Linked DNA regions of Homo sapiens. The protein of the gene in region 3 purifies or fractionates together with the protein of the main gene of each other region. This does not show direct contact. Each region holds a gene or a part of one and is shown on either strand. Other genes may lie near its edges.

Region 1 (7,439 bases), on a different chromosome or scaffold from region 3:
TTAAGCAATTCTCTGCCTCAGCCTCCCGAGTAGCTGAGATTGCAGGCACCCGCCACCACGCCTGGCTAATTTTTGCATTTTTAGTAGAGATGGTGTTTCACCATCTTCGTCAGGCTGGTCTTGAACTCCTAACCTCATGATCTACCTGCCTCAGCCTCCAGACAACTTTTCTTATAGCCTCCAAATCCAGGACAAGGCTGTGAGGTTCCAACTCACTAAAACATGGCATAATTTGCAGCAGTTGATTTTGCTCAAACAGAAGCTCAATGCAAAGGCATTCAACACAGAGACTAAGAGTGTCATACCTGAATGTTAACATCTGCCCCGTTGTTTACTAACAATTCAAGACACAAAGCACCATGAGTGGAGGCAGCAGCAAAATGCAAAGGGGTGAACCCATTATTGTTTGGCTGGTTCACGTTAGCACCGTAGTCAATCAACTCGTTAACCACAGCATCCTGTCCATTGTAGCAGGCGATGTGAAGCGCTGTATTTCCATAGACATTGATTTCATCAATCTGCAAAAGAGTCCAACACAGGGTGATTAAAGTCATTAGAGCCAGTTTACTCCATTTTCCACAAAAAGCATAACGGCTGTGGCTAGAGAAAGGAAATAGCCATCCGCCAATATAATTGTTCAGAGCTTACTCTTGCCCCAGTGTGGTCATCTTGGGAATGCTTGTCACCCCATGGTAAAGATCAGCAAAAAGTCAATGTGGCAAAAAATGAACTGGAGACAGAGAAGTTTCATCCTGGGGAGAGGTATTTTTCAGCTAACAAAGGAATAAAAGGTGAAGGGCAAAGCTGCTTTCAAAACACCAAAAGAGAAGTAAATCAGAGGAGAATGAAAAGAGTCCCACACTCTAGGATTGGGGCACAGAAAACCTCAAGAAATGGTGGGGGATGGCAGAGGAAGTGGCTGCGGAGATGGCAGGGGAGGTGGCTGTGGAGTCTAAACATGGAAGGCGGGTCAGAATCCACTCTCTGTTTTGCTCTGGAGTCCGACACCTCACCAGGTTGCATTTTAGTAGCAGAGCAGTGGTGCCGTCAGGAGGTGTGTTTCGTCCACGGCTCCCTATTGCTTTCTGAGACCTGCCCTGGATGCCTGGTTTCCTCATTATGGTTTTCCATAATGATGCAACTTGGTTTTCCTTTCTTGGGGGACAGGATGTTCCAGCCTCACCACTGCTCCTGTTCTACCAGCAGAAAGAGAAGGCAGCAGTCTGCCTTTTCCAGCTCAAGAGTAGACATTGCTGCTGTTTGTCTCTGCCATTTATTCATTCATTTCTGCTGTAAGTCATGACTTAGAAGGCTACATTTGGAAGGTGGGATGCAGAACCTTGGCCAGTCTTTAAGAACAACTGGTTAATATATATTACATAGAATCTTTATGTCTATATATTTATCTATGTTGATATAGAAAGTTATTCAGTTTCCAGTTTTCCTCTGCTTAGTGTATGCCCCCACTGCCCTTCATCAGTTGCCCACAAAAACTCAAAAAGACAGGATGCTAGAAAACAATTCCCCTGCCCTTGAATTAAAGTGCAAACAGGATTTAACTTTAGAATAACAGAAATCTTACAAATACACTGGCCATGCATTGATGCATTCATCATAGCTCACCTCCACCCCCAGGTTCAGGAGATGCTTGACAACATTAATCTGTCCATTGGAGGCTGCAGCATGCAGAGGGGTATAACCCTTCTTATCCTTACAGGTCACTTCTGCGCCATGGTTAATGAGCAATGCTACAACATCCAAGTGGCCTTTACAAACAAAGCAGCAGAAAACATCGTTAACCTTTATAGGACAATTTGCTGATTCATTTCACCTAAATTATCAACTATTAGCTTTCATCGCCACCAGTATTTTGCTGAGTTATTTGTAAAAAGCTGGTTCATGGCAACTATTCAACAAATATTTATTGAGTACCTCCTATAGTCAGGCATAATGTAAAAGCTGTGGGGAGAAAAAAGATGATTCATATGTGAGCCTTCTCTTCAAGGAGATCTAGGTGATGCTTGTTACCACACTAATGAATAATGGTGAGGTTTTGCCAAGATATTAGTAGAGAGCCTTTAAAAATGTTGTATTAAAATGAAAGCAATGCTTTTGAAAACAATTGCCATTCCTCACTGAAAAGTTTAACAATGACAATTCAGTTAGGAAAAACTGATAAAAGAAAAAAAAACAATTAATGAGAATGACCCCAGATTATTGTTTAATCATATAAAATTACTGCTGCTCAACTGTATTTGGACCCACAAAAATGGCAATTACATATGCCTCAACTTAAAAGTATCCTCATGAATTAGAGGCCAAACAGAAAACCCTTCTAGTTTTAGCTCCTGTTAGCATTTTTTTCTACAATATTTTACTCTGTTCCATAATTCACTATATATAGAATAAGCCTGTACAACATGGTGAAACCCCATCTCTACTAAAAATACAAAACTTAGTTGGGCATGGTGGCACATGCCTGTAGTCCCAGCTGCTCAGGAGGCTGAGGCATGAGAATCACTTGAACCTGGGAGGCAGAGGCTGCAGTGAGCCGACATCACACCACTGCACTCCTGCCTGGGCAACAGAGCGAGACCTTGTCTCAAAAAATAAATAAATAAATAAACAAAGAAACAAGCATATTTGACCTTTATTTCGGGACTGAAGATTGTTCAATGCTTCAGGATCATTGCTCTAAATATGGCTGAAAATTGAAGGGTAGAAGACAAGTACTGACTCCAGGACTTTGTGTGTGTGTTGGGGTGGGGGGAAAGTATTGGCTTGTTTTATTAAAATTTGACTCTTTTCTCTCCAAGACTTTATATAGAAAAAATTTTTTTCGATTATTAGTGCTGCTATCTTAAGCTATTTGCCCTGGTTTTGCCTATTATTCCTATTTGTATCCTGACAGCACACAAAACAATGATTTGATTTCTTTAGAGTCATTTATCCAAATGCTTTAACTGTATATACATCAGCAGAGAGCAATCGTGAAACTTTGCATTCTTTGAGTCCTATCCACACTAGCTTAGTGTGTGTTCGGCCTACACAGCTGTCTCCCACAGTCACTGGCTCCAGTCCTGCAGGTGCCACGCAGTCATTTCATATGCTTCAGCCAACTCAAAAATCCATGTCAACTTTTTTTTTTAAATGCTAATGCTTGTAAAAGTTTAAGATTCTGTTTTTTTAAGCCCAAGGATTCACTCAGACCCACCTTTAGCCACATAATTTATTTCATCCCTGCCCCAACCTACTCTTTCTCCCTACAATTAATGTTAATTTTTAAAGTGATGATAAAAGGCACATATGCTTGTTAAAAAGGATTCAGAAAGGCAAAAAGGTATTAAAAGAAAACCAAAATCATCCACAATCATAAATCCCCAAAGACAATCAATTAAAATTTTAGCATATAATATTTTCCAAGTTTGTTATTGTACAGATTTTTCAATGAAAATGAGAATTATATTATTTATACTGTTTTATAATATGCTTTCATTTAACATATCACAGACTCTGTGTTAATAAACACTCATGGACTCATCACTGTAGTTACTGCAAAGTGTCCCCTTGTGTGGATCTTCCAGAATTTACCAAAACAATCTCCTGTGGATGGGCATTCAGGTTGTTTACAACTTGGTGCTGATAGAATCCTGTCTATTTTTCTAATGGCAGGATGTTCTCCAATTAGAAACACAAAGGGAATATCTTAGTTCTTCATTTCCCACAAGTCTACACTTAGAATAAACTCTGTGAGATCTCTCATTTGTCAGTGGGATTTGCCAACAAAAGTGAAAAGGAAAAACGTAGAAATGTGAACTCTCCCAAGCGGGTAGAAATGAGGGCTGCAGGCTTCAGTTTTGTCGTCAGTGGACTATCAGGATAATCACCAGCGCCTCTGGTGCCCTCCATCTATAAAATAGCCAGAGGTTTGTCTTTTCTTCCTTTCTTTTTGTTTCTTTCAAAAATATTTATAAATTTAAAAAGACGAATGGAATTTGTGTCCTTGCTTTCCGAGCCAGTGCTCTTTCTTTTTAAAACACCTTATTTTACTGCCATGACAAGTTAAAATAAGCACAATCTGTGCAGCTTTCCAATCCAGACTGAAGCACATTCAAAGAGGCCCAAGCCATGATTCATTCCTCCTCTTCTTTGTAGGATAAATAAATATCTGACAAAGCAACTGCCCGACTGGAGTGCACTATGCATGCCAGTAAAACCAACCAAATCTTCATTCAATTGCAACCCAAGCTTGAAAAGAAGTCAGACTGGAGAAAACCTACATGGTCAATGAGAGACCCATGGCTTATTTAGTTAAGGTTATCTGTACTTTGCTTTCCATGCATGGAATCCTTACCCATGTATGCTGCCCAGTGCAGAGCACGCCGGTCCTTCTTGTCAAATGCATTGATATTTGCCCCTTTGGCCAAGAGTAAATTGACCATCTGAAAGATAACCAACAATGAAATCAAGCATACATTCTGTAATGGTGAGGCCTCCTCACTGCCTGCAGATGATCTGAGCCAAATTAACATGAAATCTAAAGGCAGGTCAGAGATCTGGAGTTCTGACAAAGTAGAAATATGATGTCAGAGCAGGACATGTGTCATGTGTGTCAGAGGAAAAGACTGAAGTGACAGCCTACTTTTTCAATTCATTGTGGCTCTAAAGTTGAGAATGATATAGATGCTGAAGGTTTGGTGTACAAATATTTTCATCACATTCTTTAAAATCTCAGCAAGAAGATCAGTTTCCACTTGTGGCTGAAAGTCCTGGAGGGAGCGTTCCAATTCTGAATGATAAAAATACCCACCTCCACGTGGCCGTTCAGAGCCGCATGGTGCAAGGCTGTGCGCCCCCCTCGGTCGGAGACATTGACACTGCTCAGCAGGGGAATGATCACTTCTGCACATTTGACAGCCTTGTTGGCTGCTGCCACATGAAGAGGGGTCTGCCAGTTCTTGTCCCTTGCATTGACATCAGCTGAGTGCTTAATCAAAACCTGTACTGCTTCCTACAACAAAAGCAGAGTTTGCAGAGGTCACTGACAGACGTTCAATCAATACTTACTGGTGTAAGATGCTTCACCAAACCCTGGAACTATGGAGAGAAAGGCTCCCCAACCCTACAGGCTGGCTCCAGACAAGCCAGGTAATATTTGGTAAAGATCAAAAGAGTGGCAAAGATAAAGACAGAATCACTTTACCTTTCTTTGTCAAGCCAAGAGCCCCGGCACATCTCTAAAATCAAATAAACCTTCTAAGTATATGATGATGTCCTTACAATGTAGAAGGCACTCTTAGGCCAAATGAGAACACCCATGTGCAAGTGTGCATACCAGGGTAAAATAACCATAGACAAAAAGACCTCAGACATTCTTGGATCAGTTTATAAATCTTTGGTTCTCTCTGCCAACATCTTAACCCTCAGCATCGTGTGATCAATAAGTGGTCAAGACGGGAAGTAACATCTCTGTTACCATCTCAACTTAAAGCTATGAGTTGTTTCCATCTTTTCCATGTTATAATGGGTCACTTCTTTTGCCATTGTTGAGTTCCTTCACCTTCATTGGGCCTCCCACATTTTTTCTTCTATTGGCCCAGTCAGCTCCCTAACCTCTTGATCTATGACTTTCAACCCTGGCTATGCAATGGAGTCATCCATGCAGCTCTTAAAAGCACAGAAGCCAAGCATGGGCAACATAACAAAACCCCATCTCTAACGAAGAAAAAAAAAATCGACAAACATATATACAGGTGCAAAAGTAATTGCATTGCTTTTAATGGCAAAAACCGCAATTACTTTTGCACCAACCGGGAGTGGTGTTGTGGACCTCTCTAAATCCTAGCTACTCAGGCGGCTGAAGTGGGAGCATCACTTGAGCTCAGGAGTTTGACGTGATCACAATGAGCTGTGATCATGACACTGCACTCCGGCCTGGGCAACAGAGCAAGACCCTGTCTCAAAAAAAAAAATACAGTAGTTTAAAATGATTATGGAATTAAATTCACAGACATATGGAATATTAGAAATGGAGAAAGCCCTAAGGTTCATCTGAGCTGACCCCTTCATTTCATAGGCAGCTTTATTTTATAGGCAAGATGACAGAAGTCCAGGGCAATGACCTGTCAGCCTGGCTGACTTATGGGCTCTTGCATTTTCTAACAGGCCATTTTCTACTAGGCTTACTCAGTGAGTAGTCTCAGTCAAGCATCCTGACATAAATAGATTCAACAGTTAATTCTCCTTAGTTATTTACATTTTTAAATCCTAAAGTTTTAGTCTGCTACACTGGCTTAATACATATAATAGAAATTTAATATAATATTTTGGCAAAAACAAAGCTTTGATTAAAAACAGATAACTACCTTTTTAAAAACTGCATTTCTCTTTTAAAAGTTTTAAGCTTGGAAGCTCTTTAACTTGGTTTTACAAGGGAGTAATTTGATGGCTATTTAGGGAATTAATTTTTTTTTAATTAAAGAAGTCTGCCTTCTCCTGTATCACATATTGGCTAAAAATTAATACCCAGGAGCTTGCTCTGGCAGAAATATACAAGGTAAAAAAGAAACTAATGTGGGGGAAGGGAAGCTGAACACTTCCTGAATCAAGAAAAGATTATTTTTCTTCTGTTAAATTTTTTTTAATCAACTTTTATTTTAAGTTCCAGGGTACATGTGCAGAATGTACAGGTTATATAGGTAAATGCATGTATGGTGGTTTGCTGCACAGATCAACCCATTGCCTAGGTATTAAGTCCAGCATCTGTTAGCTATTCTTCCTGGTGCTCTCCCTCCCTTCTCCCCACTGACAGGCCCCAGTGTGTGTCGTTCCTTCTCACATGTCCCTCTGTTCTCATCGTTCAGCTCCCACTTGTAAGTGAGGACGTGCGGTGTTTGGTTTTCTGTTTCTGAGTTAGTTTGCTAAGGACAACAGCTTCCAGCTCCATTCGTGTTCCTGGAAAGGACATGATATTGTTCCTTTTTATGGCTGCATAGTATTCCATGGTGTATAGGTACCACATTTTCTTTATCCAGTCTATCATTGATGGACATGTGGGTTGATTCTGTCTTTGCTATTGTGAATAGTGCTGCAATGAACATAAACATGCATGTATCTTTCTAATAGAATGATTTATAATTGGATTGCTGGGTCAAATGGTATTTCTGCTTCTAGATCTTTAAGAAGTCACCACACTGTCTTCCACAATGGTTGAACTAATTTATTCCCACCAACAGTGCAAAAGCTTTCCTTTTTCTCTGCAACCTCACCAGCATCTCTTGTTTCTTGACATTCTAATAACTGCCATTCTGACTGGTGTGAGATGGTATCTCATTGTGGTTTTGATTTGCATTTCTCTACTGATCAGTGATATCGAGCTTTTTTTCATGTTTGTTGGCTGCATGAATGTCTTCTTTTGAGAACTGCCTGTTCATGTACTT
Region 2 (7,439 bases), on a different chromosome or scaffold from region 3:
CACCCAAGGCCAGGAGTGGTGGCTCACGCCTGTAATCCCAGCACTTTGGGAAGCCGAGGTGGGCGGATCATCTGAGGTCAGGAGTTTAAGACCAGCCTGACCTAAATTTTAACCCCATGGCTAAAAATACAAAAATTAGCCAGGGCGGTGGTGTGCGCCTGTAATCCCAGCTACTCAGGAGGCTGAAGCAGGAGAATTGCTTGAACCCGGGAGGCGGAGGTTGCAGTGAGCTGAGATTGCGCCACTGCACTCCAGCCTGGGCAACAGAGTGAGACCCTGTCTCAAAAAACAGACAAAGACAAAATGTTTTGTGACCGCAATAATTTTAAATCCCAGTATTACTGCTTTTATTTAATAAGATGCAAATACTTAGGACTGGTTGAGAAAAAGTTGTAAGAATATACAAATACTGTCATCGTATTATTTGTTCCCACCCCCACAGCCCAATCAACTGAATTTTAAACTAAATGCCACGTTAATAATAATAGCAAAAGCATACCTGCATCAGATTAAATCGTGCTACTTCATTAATAGGAGCATCGGAAATTATTCCATATTGTTCTGGATTGACAACTGCAGGACAAATGAAGCAGGCCAACAGGAGATCAGTACACATTGCCCTGACCTCCCCAACTTCCAGCCTATCTACACAGGAGAGGGTTTTGTACATCTGAGACACGATCCACCTTAAACTATGTGGAAAACAATATGTGTTCTGTTTGAGATAACCAATAAATTTGTTCACCAAAGCCACTAGCTTTGCTTCATTGGACTCCACCATTTCTTGAACTTTTTGCCTGAATCTATCTGAGCCCTTCTCTCCAAAGAGTTTTTCCTGCTGAGATGGAGAGAACCTCTCAATTAGCTTGTTTGGATCTGTTTCCAGGTGATCTTCATCTTCAACAAGCAGTTGCATAATTGGCTCATGTAAAGTGGCTGTGAGGAAAAGTTTGGCAGAAAACAGTCCTTCAGAAAAAAGTTTAAATAAGATGCTGAAGGCACAAGTTCCTCTCCTCAAAAGTCGCCTAGGGTTGTCACTTTCTTTAAGTTCAAATTCAATCAAGTATCGCAAAACCTGAAGGAGGTAGCTTTCATCTTCTTGCATGATGCAATTGCCATACAGGGAGGTAAAAACTGTGTAAATAACACTTTGTGTGTTCTCCTGATTAAGTTTCTCTCCAGCAACCAAAGAGGAGGCAATAAGACGAGGATTTTCCCTCAATCGACTCAAGAATTCTCCATAAGCAGTCTCCTGAAATCCCAATTGCTTATACCCATCAACAAATTGTGTATCTTCCAAAATTTTGGCATGTTGGCAACATTCAGCAGGGGAAGCTTCAGCACTAAAAAAAAAAAAAAAAAGAGCAAACAAGCAAAATAATAGTATTAATAATAATAACACATATACTATATCCAAACATGGATATGTGAGTTGATTATGGTCCCAACAATGAGGTCACTCTGAATTGCTAAAATTTTTTAAACTAACAGCAACTCAATGAGTAAAGGACAACAAAACTAAAAAGTACAAAGGACAATTTCCTCTTATCAAATCAGAATCAATGAAAAGTATTGGGGCTGGGTGCGGTGGCTCAGACCTGTAATCCCAGCACTTTGTGAGGCCGAGGCGGGCAAATCACTTGAGGCCAGGAGGTCGAGACCAGCCTGGCCAACACGGCGAAACTCCCATTTCTTCTAAAAATACAAAAATTAGCCAGGCATGGTGGCAGGCACCTATAATCCCAGCTACTTGGAAAATTGAGGCAGGAGAATCACTTGAACCCAGAAGGTAGAGGTTGCAGTGAGCTGCAATCATGCCACCGCACTCCACCCTGGCCAACAAAGCAAGACTCTGTCTGGAAAAAAAAAAAGAAAGAAAGAAAGAAAATTATCAGTTTGTAGATCCTAAAAACTGTCCAGAGCTGCCCTCTTATGGATTAAATTAAAATTAGCTACAGGAAGGACACAGTGGCTCACACCTGTAATCCCAGACTTTGGGAGGCCAAGGTGGGAGGATCACTTGAGCCCAGGAGTTCAAGACCAGCCTGGAAAATATGGTGAAACCCCATCTCTACAAAAAAATATGAAAATTAGCTAGATGTGGTGGCGTGTGCCTGTAGGCCCAGCACTCAGGAGGCTGAGGTGGGAAAATCGCTTGAGCTCAGGAGCTTGAGACAGCAGTGACTCAAGATCATACCACTGCATTTCAGCCTGGGCGACACAGCCAGATCCTGTCTGAAAAAAAAAAAAATCAGCTACAGTTAAACTGCTTATGCTTATTTATGGACATAAGAAAGTTTACAAATACTCAAGTACTAAAAAATAATAAAAATGAAGTCGATATCAGCATATTGCTCAACCATTCTCAACAGCAACATGCCAGTATGTAATGACCTGCAGAATCACATCCTTTAACTAGGCTTTTTGCTTCTGGAAACAAATCCAAATAAAATAAGCCTAAAAGATGTGGGGAAAAAACCACAATGCCCACAACAGCACTGTTCTTTTTTTTTTTTAAACTCATTTTTATTGAGGTAAAATACAGTAAAGTGCACAAATGTCAAGTGTTCAGCTTGAACAATTTTTACACATACATGCACCCAGTAATCACCACTCAGATTAAGACATGGAACATTTTAAAAACCCAAGAACGCTTTCACGTGCCCTTTCCCAGTCAATACCACCCTCTCAAGCCCAAAAAGTAACCATTATTCTGATTTCTGTCATCAAAGATCAGTCCTGTCTCTTTTTGAACTTCATACAAATAGAATCATACAGTATGTATTCTTTTGCATCTGGCTTATATTCTCAACAGCACTGATATTCTTAGAGTTAAAAACTGTTCTTGGCCAGGCAGGGTGGCTCATACCTATAATCCCAGCACTTTGGGAGGCCGAGGGGGCAGACTGCGAGGTCAGAAGTTCAAGACCAGTCTGACCAACATGGTGAAACCCCGTCTCTACTAAAAATACAAAAATTAGCCAGGCATGGTGGCACAAGTCTGTAATCCCAGCTACTCAGGAGGCTGAGGCAGGAGAATCTCTTGAACCCAGGAGGCAGAGGTTGCAGTGAGCTGAGATTGTGCCACTGCACTCCAGCCTGGGGGACAGAGCGAGACTCCAACTCAAAAAAAAAAAAAAATAAAATAAATGTTCTTCGTAGGTATTAAGACAATAAAATGTGGTTTCTAAACCCGAAAAATAGCTATACAATATCAAAACATGGAAATACATATATATATATATATATATATATATATATATATATATATATATATATATATATATTTTTTTTTTTTTTTTCTTTTGAGACAGAGTCTCACTCTGTCACCCAGGCTAGAGTGCAGTGGTGCGATTTTGGCTCACTGCAACCTCCACCTCCCGGGTTCAAGCCATTCTCCTGCCTCAGCCTCCCGAGTAGCTGGGATTACAGGCGTATGCCACCATGCCCCGCTAATTTTTGTATTTTTAGTAGAGATGGGGTTTCATCATCTTGGCCTGGCTGGTCTTGAACTCCTGACCTCGTGATCCACCCACCTCGGCCTCCCAAAGTGCTAGGATTACAGGTGTCAGCCACCACACCCAGCTGGAAACCTATATATTAAATAATATTAGGAGAAAAGCAGAACAGATAATTTACTCTCTACAACAACATTTTTTTTTTCTTTTGAGGAGACAGAGTCTCGCTCTATGGCCCAGGCTGGAGTGCAGTGGCACAATCTCGGCCCACTGCAACCTCCACCTCCCGGGTTCAAGCAATTCTCTGCCTCAGCCTCCCGAGTAGCTGGGATTACAGGCGCCTACCACAATGCCCAGATAATTGTTGTATTTTTAGTAGAGACGGAGTTTCACCATCTTGGCCAGGCTGGTCTTAAACTCCTGCCCTCATGATCCACCCGCCTTGGCCTCCCAAAGTGCTGGGATTATAGGTGTGAGCCACCACGCCCAGCCAACAATAACATTTTATATAGACAAAGACACAAAACCAATTGGTGTGATATAAAATGTCAATGCTTAAGTTACAATTTTCTATAAAAGTGCCTAAGTTACTTAATAATCCAAATAAACTGTATTATAAGCAAAGACTCACCTTAACATTGATGTAAATTATCTTAAATAATGCACTTTGTTGGAAACAGATTCATTTATTTATAGTTACTAATTTATTTACAGAATCATAGTGGTTCACAAAACTTAAAACCTGAAAATCATCTCTTTACCTGGTTATGATAAGCCGATCCAAATTGATTCTCTGTTGCTTCGCAATCCATGCTGTACGATACAACTTTTCAGCTGTCTTAAGTACATCTGCATTGAGCCTCTGAATGAGCTGTTTCTCAGAGTTTACATATAAGCGTTCCTGCTTGAGGTGATGAGCCAGAGTATGAATATCTAGTTTCACCATCTTCAATGTGGGAAAGGCTCAAAGGCTGATCACTAAGAGTAAAAAGATAAAGATTTAAAGTTTATGTATGTCACTTAAGTTCTTTTCTAAAATCAAAAGGGACAGGAGAATACTTTAAGAATTCAGTTACATTTGGGCAGGCGCGGTGGCTCATGCCTATAATCCCAGCACTTTGGGAGGCCAAGGCGGGCGGATTACAAGATCAAGAGATCGAGACCACCCTGGCCAACATGGTGAAACCCCTGTCTCTACTAAAACACAAAAAATTAGCCAGGTGCGGTGGGGCGCGCCTGTAGTCCCGGCTACTCAGAAGGCTGAGGCAGGGGGATTCCTTGAACCCGGGAGACAGAGGTTGCAGTGAGCTGAGATTGCATCACTGCACCCCAGCCTGATAACAGAGCAAGAATCGTTCTCAAAAAAAAAAAAAAAAAAAAAAAAAATTAGGTTACATTTGATGCCACTTTTAACTCTAATTTTCAAATAATCTCTATCTTTTTATTACAGAAGTATTACAGGTTCAGCATAGAAAAATTGGTAAATACAGATAAGCAAAAAGAAAAAAAAGCTCACTGCTAAGGCCACCGCTTAGAGACAGGTGCTGTAAACCCTGTGTATATCCTCAAATACAATGTCTATTTGTTAACCCCAGAGTTATCCTTGACTGTGCTCTTTCTAATCACAATCAAAATATCCTGTTGATTCTATCTTCAAAATATATTTAAAATCTGACTACTTATTCCCCCCTCCATTGCTAATCACATCAATTCTCACTAGGAGGTGCATAATCACCACATCCTAAGTGATCTCGCTGCTTCCTTTCTTGTACTTCTAGAGTCTGTTCTCTACATAGCATAGTGAATTAAAAAGTCAGATCACAGCCGGGCGCGGTGGCTCACGCATGTAATCCCAGCACTTTGGGAGGCCAAGGCAGGTGGATCACCTGAGGTCAGGAGTTCGAGACCAGCCTGGTTAACATGATGAAACCCCGTTTCTACTAAAAATACAAAAATTAGTTGGGTGTGGTGGTGTACACCTGTAGTCCTAGCTACTCGGGAGGCTGAGGCAGGAGAATTGTTTGAACCTGGTAGGCGGAGGTTGCAGTGAGGTGAGATCATGCCACTGCACTCCAGCCTGGGCAATAGAGTGAGACTCTATCTCAAAAAACAAAACAAAACAAAACTTAAGTCAGATCACTTCATTCCCCTACTGGAAACCATCCACAGGCTTTATTTCATGATAGAATGAAATCTGAAGGTCCTATATGATCTACCCCTGGCTACTTCTCCAATTTCCTCTCCTACAATCCCACCCTAGTTCACACAGCTCCAGAACATCTGCCTTCTTGCTGTTCCTTGAACAGGCCAAGCATGTCCCTCTCTCAAAGTGTCCACATTTGCTGACCTCTCTGTCTGGAAGGTTATCCAGTATCTTCATTCCATTCAGATCTCTCCACTCAAACGTGTATTTAGAAAGGCCTTCTCAGACAACTCCTTCTAAAATAGAAAATATAACTTCCTAATCCCTCTTCTGGCCTTTTAAAAAAGCACTGCCCCTATCTAGCATTATATTACAGATATCTACCTGCATGTTAATCGTGCTTATTGTGAGGCTTCCCCACTAGAAGGTAAGTGACAGCAGGGCCAAGCCTTGTTTGCTTTGTTCATTCACAGCTGTAATTTCAGGGACTAGGAGACGGCCTAGTTCACAGCAGGAGTTGAATAAATATTTGCCAAAGGAATAAATGAAATCTCACTACTCTTATTTATCTAGCAGCTAAACAAACTGATACAAATAGCACACATATTTTAAAGCATTATTATTTAAGCTATGCCCTTGAATCTAGAATTTGTGCCAGATCACAAATGTTAAATCAACAACAGAAATACCTGTGGCACAGATAACAAAACATAATATTGTGTGTCTGGGCAGCAGACAGTCATCAAGTTAGCAAAAAATTTCTTGGGTTGGGCACGGTGGCTCACACCTGTAATCCTAGCACTCTGGGAGGCCAAGGCAGGTGGCTCACTTGAGGTCAGGAGTTTGAGACCAGCCTGGCCAACATGGTGAGACCCTGTCTCTACTAAAAATACAAAAATTCACCAGGCGTGGTGGCAGGTGGCTGCAATCCCAGCTACTCAGGAGGCTGAGACAGGAGAAACTTGAACCCAGGAGGCAGAGGTTGCAGTGAGCTGAAATCGCACCACTGCACTCCAGCATGGGCAACAGAACGAGACTGTCTCCAAAAAAATAGGAGAAAAAAAAAAAAAAGGCCAGGCACAGTGGCTCACACCTGTAATCCCAGCACTTTGGGAGGCCAAGGCAAGGGGATCACCTGAGATCAGGAGTTCAAGACCAGCCTGACCATCATGGAGAAACCTGGTCTCTACCAAAAACACAAAATTAGCCGGGCATGGTGGCACATGCCTGTAATCCCAGTTACTCAGGAGACTGAGGCAAGAGCATTGCTTGAACCCAGGAGGCAGAGGTTGCAGTGAGCTGAGATCGCGCCACTGCACTCCAGTCTGGTGACAGAGTAAGACTCCATCTCAAAAAAAAAAAAAAACCTAAGAACTATATGTGGCCGGGTGTGGTGGCTCACACCTGTAATCCCAGCACTTTGGGAGGCTGAGGCAGAGAATTGCTTGAACCCGGGAGGTGGAGGTTGCAGTGGGCCGAGATTGTGCCACTGCACTCCAGCCTGGGCAACAAAGCAAGACTCTCTCTCAAAAAAAAAAAAAAAGGAAGAAAGAAAGAAAGTGTTAGGATGTCTGCAACTTGTACATGGTTCAGCAAAAACATTAAGAGAATTTTTTTAAATATAGCTAAATATAAACTGTTGAACTGAGGTGGTAGGTATATAATGATCGCTGTGCTATCTTTCAATGGTTTTTGTATGTTAGAAATTTTTCATAATTAAAAAATGGGGTAAAATACTTTAGAAATTCTCAAACTGTGCCTTTCTTGCTGCTTAATTCAATGTAATTGAACAAATATATGACTGAGTTTCGCTGGAGCCTAGCCAAATCGCCTAATCT
Region 3 (7,732 bases):
ACACAACCTCTGAGTGGGGACTCAGGAGGGTCCCCAGACTGCAGGATCTGGAGAACAAGGAGCAGGCCAAGAAAGTCTGCCCAGCCAGCAGTCTCAGCACTGGGGCCCACAGCCCTGGGTTCCAGGGCAACGTGGCCTGGCCCCCGACTCCTCCCATCCCATGGCAAGGTCAGGGCCCCCCTCCAGGAGGCCCTGCAATCCTCTGGGGGGGATGGCCAGGGGAGAGAGCACTCCCCTAGGGCCAGGAGGTTCTTCTGGGCCACGGGTGGCAGCCGAGACCCCAGGCTGCCAAGTTTCCTAAGAGAAGGAAGGCCAGCACCTCGCCTCCTTGTCCTGACTTGGGGTTGGGCCAGCACCACAGTCTTTGCACTTCAGAGCCTGGACAGGCCCCGCTCATCCACCAGCCCGTGCCCGGCCCACTGCCCACTCTCCCCTACTTGAGAGGCCTGGGGCAGGGGCACTGCCCTGGCTTCAAGATGAGAAGAGCCCCTATGAGGGAGAAGGGTCCAGAAGGAATGAGCCCATCGGCCCCCTGCACGTGGGGGTCCAGGTGACCTGCTCTCATCTGTAGCTGTGCTGCTCCCCTCCCCCGCAACCAGGGCTACCAGTGGCTGAAGGACAAGATCCTCAGTGAGGAGGGCCGGCGCCAGCAAGCCAAGCTGAAGGAGCTGCAGGCCATCGCCGAGCGCCTGGGCTGCACCCTGCCCCAGCTGGCCATAGGTAACGGTGGGGTCGCCATGGGGCCAGTGCCCCTGGGGAGAACCTGCCCCAGCTGGCCGTAGGTAACAGGGTGGGGTTGCCATGGGGCCAGTGTCTCCGGGGAGAGAGGGAAGGGATCCCTGGACATCATCCCCCAGCCAGCCTCGGGTAATCGGGCTCTAAGGGGCATGGTTGGGACCCCATGCCTCTAGGGGGATGTCAGGAGTCCCTGAGGACCTGGGCCACCCCCTCCATCTGCCAGCCATAGGTAATGGGGCTCCCGCTTTCATGGGAAGAGGATGGGGAGCGCTAAGCACTTGGGCCACCTCTCCATCAGGGAGCAGCGGGCTCCCCCATGCCTCCTCCAGCCACCTCTTAGACAAAGCCCGTGCCCAGCACTGCAGGGCTTCCTAGACCCCCTCAGACCCCCAGACCAAGATGCTGGGTCTCTCGGCCCAGTCAGAGGCAAGGCAGACCCATCAGGGGCCCCTGTGGTGGGTGTTTCTCCCTCACCTTGGGTCTCGCCGCCACAGCCTGGTGCCTGAGGAATGAGGGAGTCAGCTCCGTGCTCCTGGGGGCCTCCAATGCGGACCAGCTCATGGAGAACATTGGGGCAATACAGGTAAGAGTGAGAGGCCCTGCTGGGCAGAGGGCCCATCCCAGCCCGAGCCCCGTCCAGTGCATCCTCCCAGGCTCGTCCTGCGTGCCAGGCTCTGTTCTAGGCACTCAGGATGCGCCCGTGAACCATCAGAGTTGTGCTCCTGGAGAGCTTGCTTTCCAGCAGGAACAGACATGAACACTAACTGCACGAAACAAGGAGGTTAGAATGTGTGTCAGGGTGGACGAGCGCTGTAGGAGAGAAGCCAGAGATAAAGGGAGGGAGCTGGGGCCAGGGACGGTGGCGCTGCAGACTCAGGTTCAAGGGGGCCTGTCAGGTGGGCTTGTTGAGAAGGTGGTGCTTGAGCAGTCTTGAGAGATGCGGAGTAAGTCACGCAAATGCCTGCGGGAAGAACCTTCCACCAGCAGGAAGAGTTGATGCAAAGGCCCAAAAAGGCCTGGAGCAGAGGGGCAGATCCTGAGAGGCACGAAACACCTCCAGGGACTTCTGAGTGAGACGGGAGCCGTGGCAAAATTGTGGGCAGAGGAGGGCGAGCTGCAGCTCAGCCTGGAAAGGGAGGCTGCTCTCCGGCTGCTCCATCGGGGAGGCTTTGGGAAGCAAAAGTCGAAGCAGAGAGCCCTGGTGGGAAGTGGCAGCTGCGGGTCCGAGACGGGAGTGGTGGTTGGATCCTGGATGTTTGGGAAGGTGGGGCCCCCGGGACTGGCTGACAAACTGGATGTGGGGGTGAGAAGGCGAGGTGGAAGTCGGTCCCCGGGTGTGTCACCCGGAAGGGTGGCGGTGCTGTATGCTGAGGCAGGCGCAGCTGGAAAAAGCAGTCACGGACATGGAAGTCCAGCATTTGGCCTGGAGTTTCCATTTTATGTCACTGCTGCCACCACCCTTCAGGAAGGTTCTAGGGCACCTTGACATTTGAGAGGGAGTGCACAGACCCAGGCATGCTTCCTCTCTGCCCCAAACCTTCTGAAACACAAAAGCAGCGTGGCCTCCATCTGCCTCAGATGGAGCCCAGATGTGATGGGGCAACCCGGGCCTGGCCAGCCGACCATCTGGAAGAGCCTGGCCCCACCTCCTCCCCAGGCCAGGCCCGTCTTGTTGGTGGGATTCTGATTTGTTGTTGTTCTTGCACGCAGGTCCTTCCGAAACTGTCATCTTCCATTATCCACGAGATTGATAGTATTTTGGGCAATAAACCCTACAGCAAAAAGGACTACAGATCCTAAGCCGCCCCCGCCCGCCTGCTCGGACAGTTTCCGTTCCCTCCTAGTCTCTGTTCGCTCGCTTAAGCTGTTTTGAAGCCAAGTGAAGAGTGTGGTTTGCATCCAAGAGAAAACACCACACTGTGATGTCATCGGGAAATGATCTCCCAAGTCGCTGCCAGACACCACCCACTGCTTCGCCGGACAATGTCGAAGTCCAGTCTGTGCCGGGGAAGGCACTGGTTAGGAAGGATGTTCAAACGGTCCCACCCAAGCCTGTCACCTCTGCTCATCCTCCAAGACCACCCAGCTTTCTCCCAGCCACAGCCAAGATTCCCAAAGTCAAGGCCCAAAGATTTCCAAGGTTCCCAAAGTCAAGGCCAGGCCAAGGCCTGGTTGGGTCCTTGGGGCGGGCAGGGCCAGCCTCTCCTCTGCTGAGAATCCCCACTTGGTGTAGGGGGAGAGGGGAAAGGGGTCTGGCCCATCGAGGGGCCCCTTCTGCCAGGGCCTTGGTTGCTGGGGCAGGGCCTCCCCACTGGGGGTCTTCCTCCACCTCCCACTTTCCAAGGGCTCCAGGAATCTGGGGCCTGACCACAGATTCCTCTCCCATCCTTTTCTGCTCCAACCTGCCCCACTGGGTCCCGGCAGGGGCCATGCCTACCAAGCTCGAGCTGGCCCTTGACCCCCACCCACCCCCACCCTTGCTGGCAGGGGCAGGGACCCCAGGGGGATTGACTCTGCAGTTTGGGAGCCACAAAAAGCGTAGCGGTGTGATTTCTAGCTCAGCCTCCCACCGTCTTCCTCCTACACACCAATGATGAGCCTCATGCCAGTGAGGCCCGGAGCGCTTGGGAGGGGTCCCAGTGGGGCAGGCCCCTCTGTCTGGCCACCCCTCTGTCCTGGCCCCGGAAGGCCCTGTGGTCATGTGCTCCTAGCTGCACGGTGGCTGCTGGCCACACCACGGCAAGTGGCAGCAGGGGCCGGCCCTGTGCACAAGGATGCACTCCTCTCGGCCCCTGTAGACTTTCTCTAAAGCCGCCCGCCAGCCCAGGCCGCTGCTCTGCACCGAGCTGGTGGGCTTGGGTTTTGTGGAGCGCATGCTTGGACCCTTTCAGTAAGGAAGGGTCTTTGGGGTTTTCTGTGCCCATGACTTGGGGGCTGCACCCCCACAGCACCCCCACAATGTAGGAAAAGACCTCAGGGAACCTCTCCCTGGAAAGACGGGCAGGGCTGGTTAGCCCCTCCCACTGCCTGACACCTGGGACAGGCTGGGCAGAGGGGAGAGAGGGCAGGACAGGCCAGAGTGACGCCCCCGTGCAGCTTGGGCCGGAGGGCAAGGGATGCCAGTAAGTCTGCAGGTGCGGGGTGCCACCTACAGGCCCAGGCCTGTGTCCCAAGCAGTACCCAGGCTTTGCAGACCACGCGGGGCAGGGCTCCACTGAAGCCACCCCCACCCCTCGCCAGCTAGCTCCATAGGGAAGCCTGTGTCTCCTGCCCCCAGGGCGCACCCTCAGTGCAGGCACCTCTGTTCCCGCTTTGCCCCTGGAGGAGCCACTATTCCAGAAGGCTCCACCCTGCCGTCCTGCGGGAGCCTGCTGTCCAGTCCTGGCCGGGCCAAGGCCTGGGAAACTGTGAAAGTCAGAAAGGCCAGCGGGGAGAGGCTGGGGCGAGGGGAGGAGGGGGATCAGCTTCTGCTATTACCGACCCCCCTTCATGCTGCCCCTGGCGCCTAGAACCCTTGCCCCTCCTCATAGACCAAGTCCCGGGGGTCTCCACTCAGTCCTGCTGCCTGCTTCACCAGAAGCAGCCCTGTGAGTGTGGGGTGGGGAAGTCCCTTCCCAACGGAGGTCCCAGCCTATGGCCCTGGGCCCAGGTGGGGGTCGCCTGCTTCCTTCCCGGACAGGGTCCTGCAGTGGCCAATGGTGCCAGAGGGCAGGTGGCCCACCCTCGCCATCAGGGAGGGTGGCTGGCCCCATCCCCACTGCCACCCAGCCCCACCCACTGTTGGAAGAGGGACCAGCGCGAGGTGGTGCCCAGGGTGGGCACTGCTGCTTAATGCGAGGCACACCTGGGGCAGCTGAGCCCCCAAAGGCTGCGGGTTTGCCAAACACAGAGAGGCCAGGCCCCAGTGTCAGGATGCAGTCAGCCTCTGGCGCAGCTCTTTCCACGACCTGGTTCCTGGATGTCCTGCTTGCTCCACACCCATCTACAGGGAGGATGTGAGGGGGCTCTGCCTCCTAGGGCCAGGTCCCCCCTCTCGGGAGGAGGTATTGGGTAGGACCATCCAAGAAAGGGCAGAAGACCAAGGGCAGTCGGGGTCTAGAAAGGAGGGCGCTGGCCCTGCTGGACGCTTCGGAGCCCCCACTGTTTCCCACTCAGCTTTGTGCTCAGATCCCAGGTCCCAAGGAGTGACAGGGGCTTCCTCCCACCTTCTGTCCTTGTCCAGTCATGTAAATAATGTGCTTTTTCTCTCCCCGAGTCTTTTTTTTTAAACCTACCGTGGTTCCTCAGCTAACTGCATTCCCTACCCAGGCAGAGACTGTCCTATGCCTCGAGCTTCCAAACGAGACTCAGACCGCGACACAGCCACCGTATTTATGGAATGACAAAATAAATAAAGCCCAAACCCATCGGTCTCTGTGACTTTTTGCTCCTCTCATTTCCTCAGGGTCAGGGCTGGGCCAGGGTGACACGGGAGGGGAGGAAAAGGCTGCCAGCAGCAGGGCCTGGGGCATCCCCCAAACCGGAGCCTGCAGCCAAGGGCAGGTGGGTTGGAAAGGGCCCGTGGAGAGAGAGCGGGGACAGAGAATGGGGACAGGGTGGTCAGAAGACCTGTCCCCCATCTCTCCCAAGCGATTCAGCCAAGGGAGGGTGCGTGCCTCCCCTGCCGCCCCCAACACACACATTCTCTTTCACCAACTCTGAGGGCCCAAAGCTGCTTGCTGGGAGGCTGCTGTCCCTCTGGGGACCTGGCTGGCTGCTGTTCTCATAAGGACAGAGGTCCAGGCCTGGGGAAGCTCTCATGGTATGTGTTTGGGGTACAGGTGAGAGGGGCCTCACCCCAGCACACCCCTGTTTCGGGCTCCCCTCCTTCCCAGTGAGCCCCTGCACCCGTGAAATGACCATCCCAGGCAAGAGAAGGCTTCCGGACACGCCCCCACCCCCCACCACTCCTCCCTGGCCCCAGCCCCCACCCCCATTCTAAATCTTGAATCTTAAAAAGAAAAAGCCTCTGATTAAATCCTTTCCCAAAGGATTTATTAAAACACAGAAAACCAAAACATACACACAGAGTACAAAGTAAAGGTGATTGTGTTGGCTACAGCCTCTGTCCAGCCTCCCGTGGGCGAAGACCAGACAAGCCACGGCTCACAGGGGAGCCTGGCTTCCAAAGCTGGACCCGCCCCCGCCGGGGCCACCCTGGCTGGGACTCCTGGCGCGCCTTGCACCCAGCCCAGGGCCCTCCCTTTGCCAGCCTGGGGCTGTGCCTGGGGAAAGGGGTCGGCCCCCTCTTAGCTGGGCCTGGGCCGGTGGAGTCTGCTCCCTCCACACCCCTGAACTCAGACCCCACGGGCCAGTGGGGACCCTCCCTTCCTCTCCAGGGGTGCTTGGGCTCCAATCGCTGCTTGAGGAGTTCAGGACACACACACACACCCAACGGGCCCTTTCTGGGTTATCGCACCTAAAAAAATACTTTGTTTAAAAAAAAAATCTGAAAATTAAAGAAAAAAAAAACACAACGCCAGTGAGTTTGGGCTGATGCACCACAACCTGTAAACTTTCAGACACAGAAAACAGGACAGGAACCAGCTGCCGAGGCCGAGGCGGGCCTTGCACAGAAGAGACTTGGGGGAGGGGCCGAGGCCAGGTCACCAAGACGGTGAGGGCAGAGGGGCGTGCCAGCCTCGGCCCCCACCCACGCCCTGTCCCCTGCCCACAGACCCTGACGCACACTGGAGGCTCCAAGTGACCGACACTTGACCAAGTCCATCTGGCTTCTGGCTCCCATGTACCCGAGCCCACTCTCCACTCCACCTCCTTGGGCCTCAAGTGTCCTGGGATGACAGGAGTGAGGGCTGCAGGTGTCACCGGGCCAAGGCTTGGTCAGCTCCTGACCTCGGCAGGGGAGCACCCGGGGGACTCTGGGAAGGCAGCCCCCAAAAGCAGGAGGACTTCAATCATAGGGGGCAGGGAAAGTCCAGCCTGCCCCTGGGGGAAGCCAAGTTTGCAAAAAACGCAGGAGCTTCGGAAGGTGGCTTTCACGGGGGACGCTGCTTCTGCCTCAGGCGTGTATGAGAGGGCCCTGCAGACGTGCTCACTCCACCCCGAGTCACCTGAGCCCATGGGGCAATGCCTTCCAAGACCTTGGCTCAAACATGGCTCTGCAGAAGCCCTACTCAGCACTGGCTTAAAGTGGCTGGAAATTTCCAATCGCAGACTGGCACTTTGGGCTCGCGTTCATGCCCGAGGACCCTGATTCTACCAGCAGCAAAAACCAAACCCAGCCCAAAGACGCCAAACATACGGACACCACCATCACCACTTTTGGCAGAGATGACTGACAAACCAAGAAGGACATTCTCAGATCTTTTCTCCTCTCCCAAACTGGTCAGCCCCAAACCCGCTCTGACTCTAGTAGCCCACCCCTCCCGGGCCCCGGGGTGCTGGCCACGGACAGCACCACCCCTTCTGGACCAGGCAGTGCAGGGGGCCCAGGCCCAAAGGAGCCCTGGCCAGGCTTTCCTGGGTGCCCGAGTCTAACCAGGCAGAGGAGAAGGGAGCCCTGGCGAGGCCTGGGAGGGAAGCAGAGAGGAAGGGACAGAGCAAGCCTGCCTGAGAGGAAGGCGCACAGGGGAGGGACCATCAGCCCTTGGGGTGGAGACACAGACCCCTGCCCTGACCGCCACAGGCCTCCAGTCCTGCTGCTCGGGACCTATCTGCTGTGGGCCAAGGAAGGTGGGCACTGCTCCCAACGAGGGCCAACCCCAGTGCTTGCCACTGCTTGTTTGGGGACGAGGGCACGGGAGTGAGCTTCTGACCCGAGCCAGGACCCTTTGCCAGGAGGCACCGCAGAGCACACAACACGCATGTGGATGAACCATAACATGTGAGCCCGCTGACAATCATCTCCACTCCAGGGTGCTCCCCACTACGCCCACGTGCAGTGTCAGGGTCGGGCTGGCCTTGCAGACCTGGATCCAGACTGGAGTGTGGGAAT
Region 4 (7,439 bases), on a different chromosome or scaffold from region 3:
TAATTACCCCAAATGTTTAATTCTAGAAATAAATCCGCCTTCTCTAAGTTTTAAGTGACTGTCTTCATTTGGAGGAAATGGATTTTATTTCCTGAACCCCAGGAAAAGAAATTTTGAATTTGAAAACACTTATGTCACCAGTTTGTGGATGTTGGAACTGTGTGTGTCATTGGTCAAACACCAGTCATTTGCAAATGGCTCCCCTTAACAGGAGAATCTACCCAGGAAATTCCGTATCTTACTGGCAGAACTTGCTGCTTTAAAGTGTTTATTATAGTCTCAGCTACTTGGAGGATTACTTAATAAGCCCAGGAGTTCTAGGCTGCCATGGACTGTAATCTTGCCTGTGAATAATCACTGTACTCCAGGCTGGGCAACATAGTGAGATCCCATCTCAAAAACTATATATGTTGATTGTAGAAAATTCGAAAATATGGACAACTATAAAGAAGGTAGTAAAAATGGATTGTAATTCTTAACATGCTAGTATATTTTTCTTCAAGCATTTTTATAAGCATGTACTTTATTTCATAGCTTACACAGAAGATAGATGCAGTTTTGCTTCCTGCTTTATTTATTTTTATGTATTTATTTATTTTTTGAGACGGAGTTTTGCTGTTGTTGCCCAGGTTGAAATGCAGTGGCACAATCTTGGCTCACTGCAACCTCCGCCTCCCGGGTTCAAGCGATTCTCCTGCCTCAGCCTCCCAAGTAGCTGGGATTATAGGCATGCCCCACCATGCCTGGCTAATTTTGTATTTTTAGTAGAGGCGGGGTTTCACCATGTTGGTCAGGCTGGTCTGGAACTCCCTTACCTCAGGTGATCCATTCGCCTTGGCCTCCCAAAGTGCTGGGATTACAGGTGTGAGCCACCCCACCTGGCCCCTGCTTTATTTTTTCTTATATATTGTGGGCATTTTTACACACCATTACAACTTATAAAGTCTGCCAGAGTGTTCGTGGTTACGACTTTCTAGGGGTCTGCTTTGTGATATGGATTAATATTTACTGTCCTTCACTTGACCCTTTGTCACATTGTGTGATTATTTTTTCTAGTTTACTTTTTTTTCCCATGTAAAACTTTTTATTTAACATTTCTGTAATCAGAACTCTCAATCTTTTGTTTAAAACTTGGAAAGCATTCCTCACATATTTAATTTTGCTACATGCATGATTTTTTAAATGCTAAACCTTTGATTCATAAGGAATATATTTTTGTTTGGGTTTAACCCGTTATTCCAATAGCAACACCACTTTATTAAACAGTCTTTTATGTCTTCACTCACTTGATATGCCATCTTCATGTGTTGTTGTTGTTGTTTTTTGAGATGGAGTCTTGCTCTGTCGCCCAGGCTGGAGTGCAGTGGCATGATCTCGGCTCACTGCGACCTCCAACTCTTGGGTTCAAGTGATTCTCCTGCCTCAGCCTCCCCAGTAGCTGGGATTACAGGTGCCCGCCATCACGCTCGGCTAATTTTTTGTATTTTTTTAGTAGAGCTGGGGTTTCATCATGTTGGCCAGGCTGGTCTCAAACTCCCCTCCTCAGGTGATCCACCTGCCTCAGCCTTCCAAAGTGCTGGGTTTACAGCCATGAGCCACCGTGCCCGGCCAAGGATATTTTTAATGCTTTTTGTTACATACTGCCAAATTCTCAGTTGTATGTCTTAGTAATATTTAATGAGTATGGCTTATGATTCAGTTTCTAAATGCTCTGAAAATTATAAAACCAGTGCTGTAGTAGTTACCAATTATCCCTGAACATACACAACAGTTAGGAAATAAATTAAATAAACTTTTTTTCGGAAGTAAATAGAATTTTACTTAAGAAATAAAATATAGTGAAATACTTTAAAAAATCAGAATTTTCACGTTGAATTCAGGCTCAAAATCTCTTGAAATGAAAACAGTAGATGCTTTGAATAGTGAAAATTACAATTCAGCCACACCAGTAGTACCATTCTGTTTATCTGTTTTTCAGAGATGTCTCTGAGTTGACGGGATTTCCTGAAATGTTGGGGGGACGTGTGAAAACTTTGCATCCTGCAGTCCATGCTGGTAAGTGGTTGGTATCTTTAATGTAAAAACAGTCAGTGGTTTCCAGGAATATTTTAGTTGATAGCGTCCTAAAATAAAGGAAGAAAAAGGCTCAAGAGAAATTTACATATAAAGTTAATGTTATGAAGTTGCTGCCAGATTTCATAATACGTTAGAACTGGTTTAAAATCCAGCTTGTCTTACTACTTGATGAATTCAGATTGTTTTCCTCTGCTTGCTATTAGTCCTGACCTGATACCTAATTTAGAGTCTGGTGTTTCCTGCTCAAGTTGCTGAAGATATTTAGATTTCATCGTATGAAAATACTTTTAAAATAGTTCAAACTTAGAAGAAAGCATCACAGCGTAACTGACTTGCAAAGGAATTTTTTTTTTCAAAGTGCTTTACATTTGTTCGTTCACCTAAGAATGAATTGTATATAAACCGAAACGGCAAGAAACTGGTATCCTCCTAGTTTGTCAGTTGTGGTACAATTTGGTGAATAAAGCTGAATGGCTACAGATCATCAGACAAGCCATTGACTTACAGAAACGCATAGACTGTTCTGGAACTAGCAACAGTTTTGTAAAATTCCTTTTACCTTTTTTACATTTTATTGCTCAAGAAACTGGGATCAAGAACTGAAGAAAAAGATTTTTAAATATATCTCTCTTTTTTTTTTTTGAGACAGGATTATACTCTTGCCCAGGCTGGAGTGCAGTGGTGCGATCATGGCTCGCTGCAGCCTCTGTCTGCTTCCCAGGCTCAAGCAGTTCTCCCACCTCAGCCTCCCAAGTAGCTGGGACTATAGGCATGTGCCACCACACCCAGCTAATTTTTGTATTTTTTATAGAGACGGGGTCTCACCTTGTTGCCCAGGCTGGTCTCGAACACCTGGGCTCAAGCGATCCCCCACCTTAGCCTCCCAAAGTGCTGGTATTACAGACATGAGCCACTGTGGCCAGCCAGATATATCTGTTAATCCTAATTTTTTTGTTTGATAACTCCCCAACTACATGTTTGATATTCTTTAATTAAGAATATTATGCTGGGCATGGTGGCTCTTGCCTGTAGTCCCAGCACTTGGAGAGCTGAGACAGGAGAACCGCTTGAGCCCAGGAGTTTAAGATCACCCTGGGCAAGATGGCAACACCCCCCTTCTCTTTAAAAAATTGAAAAGACCAGCTGGGTGTGGTGATGCATTCCTGTAGTCCCAGCTACTTGGGAGGCTGAGGTAGGAGGATCACTTGAGCCCTGGAGGTCAGGGCTATAGTGAGTTGTGATTACGCCACTACAATCCAGCCTGGGCGATAGAGTGAGACCATCTCAAAAAAATAAATTTTTTTTTTAATCAATGGGATTTAATTTGATTGAAGACACTATGTTGAAAGACATTCCTTAATCTGACTTGTTTTTTGAAGCTAATGACTTTGTTTAACTTTTTTAAATTAGGAATCCTAGCTCGTAATATTCCAGAAGATAATGCTGACATGGCCAGACTTGATTTCAATCTTATAAGGTAAAAACCTGAAATTAAACTTTTAACACATTACGAACCAACGACAAAGACTATGCCAAACCTGGTGTCCCTGTGTTTTCTTACTCACTATAAACCTTTACTGCGTACCTTCTGTGTGACTTTGTATGTGTGTAAGCATTTTGGTTTGGCCAGATTTATATACCAAAATACATACTGAAGTTTTTTAGGAAGTTACAATCTAAATCTTAGTATGTATAGGTTGAGTATCCCTTATCTGAAATGCTTGGGACCCAGAAGTGTCTTGGATTTCAGATTTCTTCAGATTTTGGAATATTTGCAGGTAACATGCCAGTTGAGCGTCCCTCAGAAATCCGAAATGCTTCAGTGAGCATTTCCTCCAAGTGTCATGTTGACGCTCAAAAAGTTTCAGATTTTGGAGCATTTCAGATTTCAGGTTTTCATATTAGGAATTATCAACTTGCACAACTAACTGAGTTATTTGCATAAAGATACTGGCTGTTTCTCTTAAATATACGTAACAGCTTTATTGAGATCTAATCCACATACCATACAACTCACCAATTTAAAATGTACAAATCAGTGGTTCACAGAAGTTGTGCAACCATTACTGTGTTAGTCTGTTCTGCATTGCTATAAAGGAATACTAGAAGCTGGGTAATTTATGAAAACAGGTTTATTTTGGCTCGTGATTCTATAGACAGTACAAGAAGTGTGGTGCCAGCATCAACTTCTGGTGAGGGCCTCAGGAAGTTTATAATCACAGTGGAAAGCAGAGGGGGAGCTGGCATATCCCATGAGAGAAGAAGCAAGAGAGAGGGAGAGGAGGAGTTGCCCAGCTCTTTTACTTTTTAACTTTTATTCTTAATTTAATTTAATTTTATTTTGAGACAGGGTCTCGCTCTGTTGCTCAGGTTGGAGTTCAGTGGCATGACCTTGGCTCACTGCAACCTCTGCCTCCTGTGTTCAAGTGATTCTCCTGCCTCAGCCTCCTGAGTAGCTGAGATTACAGGCGTTTGTCACCACGCCCAACTCATTTTTACTATTTTTAGTAGAGATGGGGTTTCACCATGTTGGTCAGGCTGCTCTTGGAACTCCTGACCTCAAATGATGCACCCACCCCGGCCTCCCAAAGTGCTGGGATTAGGTGTGAGCCACCACGCCCGGCCTGCCCGGCTCTGTTAAACAACCAGCTCTACATGAACTCAGAGTGAGGACTCATTATGGGGAGGGCACCAAGCCATTCATAAGGGATCTCCCCCGTGACCCAATCATCTCCCACCAGGCCCCACCTCCAACATTGGGGATCACATTGCAAAATGAGATTTGGAGAGGACACACATCCAAACCATATTAATTGCCACATCCAATATTAAAACATATTCATCACCCCCACCCTAAACCCTATACCCATACGCATTTATTCTCCATTTCCCCAACGTCCTCCAGCCTCGGCAACCACCAATTGTTACGTGTCTGATTTGCCTGTAGTGGACATTTTCATATAAATAGAATCTAACAATATATGGTTTTTTTGTTCCTGGCTTCTTTCACTTAGCATGTTTTCAAGGTTTATCCATGTTATAGCATAGTATCAATAGTTCATTTCGTTTTTAGTGCTGAAAAATAATCCATTGTGTGGTCATACCCTGTTGTTTATCAGTTCATTTGTTGATGGACATTTGGGTTGTTTCTACTTTTTGAATATTATGAATAATGCAGCTATAAATATTTGTGTATAAGTTTTTGTGTGGACATACACATTCGTTTCATTGGGGTATATACCTAGGAGTGGAATTCCTTGGTCATATGGTAACTATGTTTAGCTTTTGAGGAACTGCGACCCTGTATTTCAGAGTGCTGCACCATTTTACATTTCCAGCAGCAGTGTGCTGGATGGGGCTCCAGTTTCTCCACATCCTCATCAACGTTACTATCTGTCTTTTTGATTCTAGTCATTCTAGGGGTTCTGAAGTGGCATCTCATTGTGGTTATAATTTGCTTTCCAAATAATGTGGAACACCGTTGGATGTGCTTCCTAGCCAGTTGTTTACCTCCTTTGGAGAAATGTCTGTTGAGACCTCTTGTCCATTTTTAGTTGAGGTATTTATCTGTTTATTATTGAGTTGTAAGTTTATTTCCTCTCATTCTATGGATTGTGTTAGCCTTTCTTGATGGTTTCCTTTGATCATCACAAGTTTTTTCTTTTTTTTGAGACGGAGTCTTACTCTCGCCCAGGCTGGAGCACAGTGGCGTCATCTTGGCTCACTGCAACCTCCACCTCCCGGATTCAAGCGATTCTGCCTCAGTCTCATGAGTAGCTGGGGTTACAGGTGCCCGCCACCACACTTGGCTAATTTTTTTGGATTTTTAATAGAGATAGGGTTTCACTATGTTGGCCAGGTTGGTCTTGAATTCCTGACCTCGGGTTATCTGCCCGCCTTGGCCTCCCAAAGTGCTGGGATTACAGGCTTGAGCCACCATGCCCGGCCCACAAAAGTTTTTAATTTTGATGATGTTGAATTTATTTTTTCTTTTGTTGCTTGTGTTAATGGTGTCATGTCTAAGAAACCATTGCCTAATCCTCAGTGATGAAGATTTTTGTGTATATTTTCTTTCTTTTTTTTTTTTTTTTTGAGATGGAGTTTCGCTCTTGTTGCCCAGGCTGGAGTGCAGTGGCGTGATCTCGGCTCACTGCAACCTTCGCCTCCTGGGTTCAAGCGATTCTCATGCCTCAGCCTCGCAAGTAGCTGTGATTACAGGTGCCCGCCACCACGCCCAGCTAATTTTTTTGTGTTTTTAGTAGAGACGGGGTTTCTCCATGTTGGCCAGGCTGGTCTTGAACTCCTGACCTCAGGTGATCCACCTGCCTCGGTCTCCCAAAGTGCTGGGATTACAAGTGTGAGCCACCGCACCCGGCGTGTGTACATTTCTTTTAAGAGTTATTTTAGTGTTAGCTCTTATACTTAAGTCTTTGGTTCATTTTAAGTTAATTTTCATATACAGACATGAAATAGAAGTCTTATTTTATTTTGTATGTGGCTGTCTAGTTGTCTCAGCATCATTTGTTGAAAAGACTGTTCTTTGCCCAATCGAATGGTCTTGGCACCCTTGGTCCATGTGCCTGCTGTTATGCCAGTACTACACTATTACTATAGGCTGGTAACAAATTTTGAAATCAGCAAGTGTGAGTCCTCCAACTTCATTTTTCTGTTTTTTGTTTGTTTGTTTGTTTTGTTTTGTTTTGTTTTTGAGACGGAGTCTGGCTCTGTTGCCCAGGCTGGAGTGCAGTGGCGCGATCTTGGCTCACTGCAAGCTCTGCCTCCCGGGTTCACGCCCTTCTCCTGCCTCAGCCTCCCGAGTAGCTGGGACTATAGGCGCCCGCTACCATGCGCAGCTAATTTTTTTGTATTTTTAGTAGAGACAGGGTTTCACCGTGTTCGCCAGGATGGTCTCGATCTCCTGACCTCGTGATCCGCCCGCCTCGGCCTCCCAAAGTGCTAGGATTACAGGCGTGAGCCACTGCGCCCGGCCCCAACTTCGTTTTTTTTATTCAAGATGACTTTGACTCTTCAGAGTCCCTTGCATTTCCACATGATTTTTAGAATCAGCTTGTCCATTTCTGCAAAACAACGCAGTTGGAATTTTCATAGGTATTGTGTTGAATCTGTAGATCAATTTGGGAAATGTTACCATCCTAAGAATATTAAATCTTCCAGTCTGTGAACATGGGGTGTCTTTAATTTCTTTAACATTGTCTTGTGAAGTAGAATTGTTTTCTTAATTTTTTTCTCATTCACTGCTAATGTATATTTTAATACAATTGATTTTTATATATTGATCATATATCCTGCGGCTTTGCTGAACTCATTTATTAGTGCTAAAAGGTTATTTTTGTGAATTTGGG

The links.
Region 1: the proteins of KCNAB2 (region 3) and ANKRD44 purify together in Homo sapiens (co-immunoprecipitation; one large-scale study listed by IntAct). This does not show direct contact.
Region 2: the proteins of KCNAB2 (region 3) and GAPVD1 purify together in Homo sapiens (affinity purification with mass spectrometry, with the first as the bait; one large-scale study listed by BioGRID). This does not show direct contact.
Region 4: the proteins of KCNAB2 (region 3) and ATIC fractionate together in Homo sapiens (co-fractionation; one large-scale study listed by BioGRID). This does not show direct contact.

Annotation. Positions count from the first base shown.
Region 1 is NC_000002.12:197,121,027-197,128,465, forward strand, and holds part of ANKRD44 (serine/threonine-protein phosphatase 6 regulatory ankyrin repeat subunit B), read right to left. Parts: intron 5,012-7,439; coding exon 4,811-5,011; intron 4,443-4,810; coding exon 4,355-4,442; intron 1,767-4,354; coding exon 1,624-1,766; intron 519-1,623; coding exon 306-518; intron 1-305. UniProt on the Homo sapiens protein: Putative regulatory subunit of protein phosphatase 6 (PP6) that may be involved in the recognition of phosphoprotein substrates.
Region 2 is NC_000009.12:125,295,887-125,303,325, reverse strand, and holds part of GAPVD1 (GTPase-activating protein and VPS9 domain-containing protein 1), read right to left. Parts: intron 5,898-7,439; exon of another isoform or gene 5,806-5,897; intron 4,438-5,805; exon of another isoform or gene 4,437-4,437; 5' UTR 4,405-4,436; coding exon 4,220-4,404; intron 1,344-4,219; coding exon 500-1,343; intron 1-499. UniProt on the Homo sapiens protein: Acts both as a GTPase-activating protein (GAP) and a guanine nucleotide exchange factor (GEF), and participates in various processes such as endocytosis, insulin receptor internalization or LC2A4/GLUT4 trafficking.
Region 3 is NC_000001.11:6,096,037-6,103,768, forward strand, and holds the end of KCNAB2 (voltage-gated potassium channel subunit beta-2), read left to right. Parts: intron 1-599; coding exon 600-720; intron 721-1,232; coding exon 1,233-1,321; coding exon of another isoform or gene 1,322-1,495; exon of another isoform or gene 1,496-1,519; intron 1,520-2,448; coding exon 2,449-2,538; 3' UTR 2,539-5,144; downstream 5,145-7,732.
Region 4 is NC_000002.12:215,316,179-215,323,617, forward strand, and holds part of ATIC (bifunctional purine biosynthesis protein ATIC), read left to right. Parts: intron 1-1,978; coding exon 1,979-2,055; intron 2,056-3,486; coding exon 3,487-3,553; intron 3,554-7,439. UniProt on the Homo sapiens protein: Bifunctional enzyme that catalyzes the last two steps of purine biosynthesis.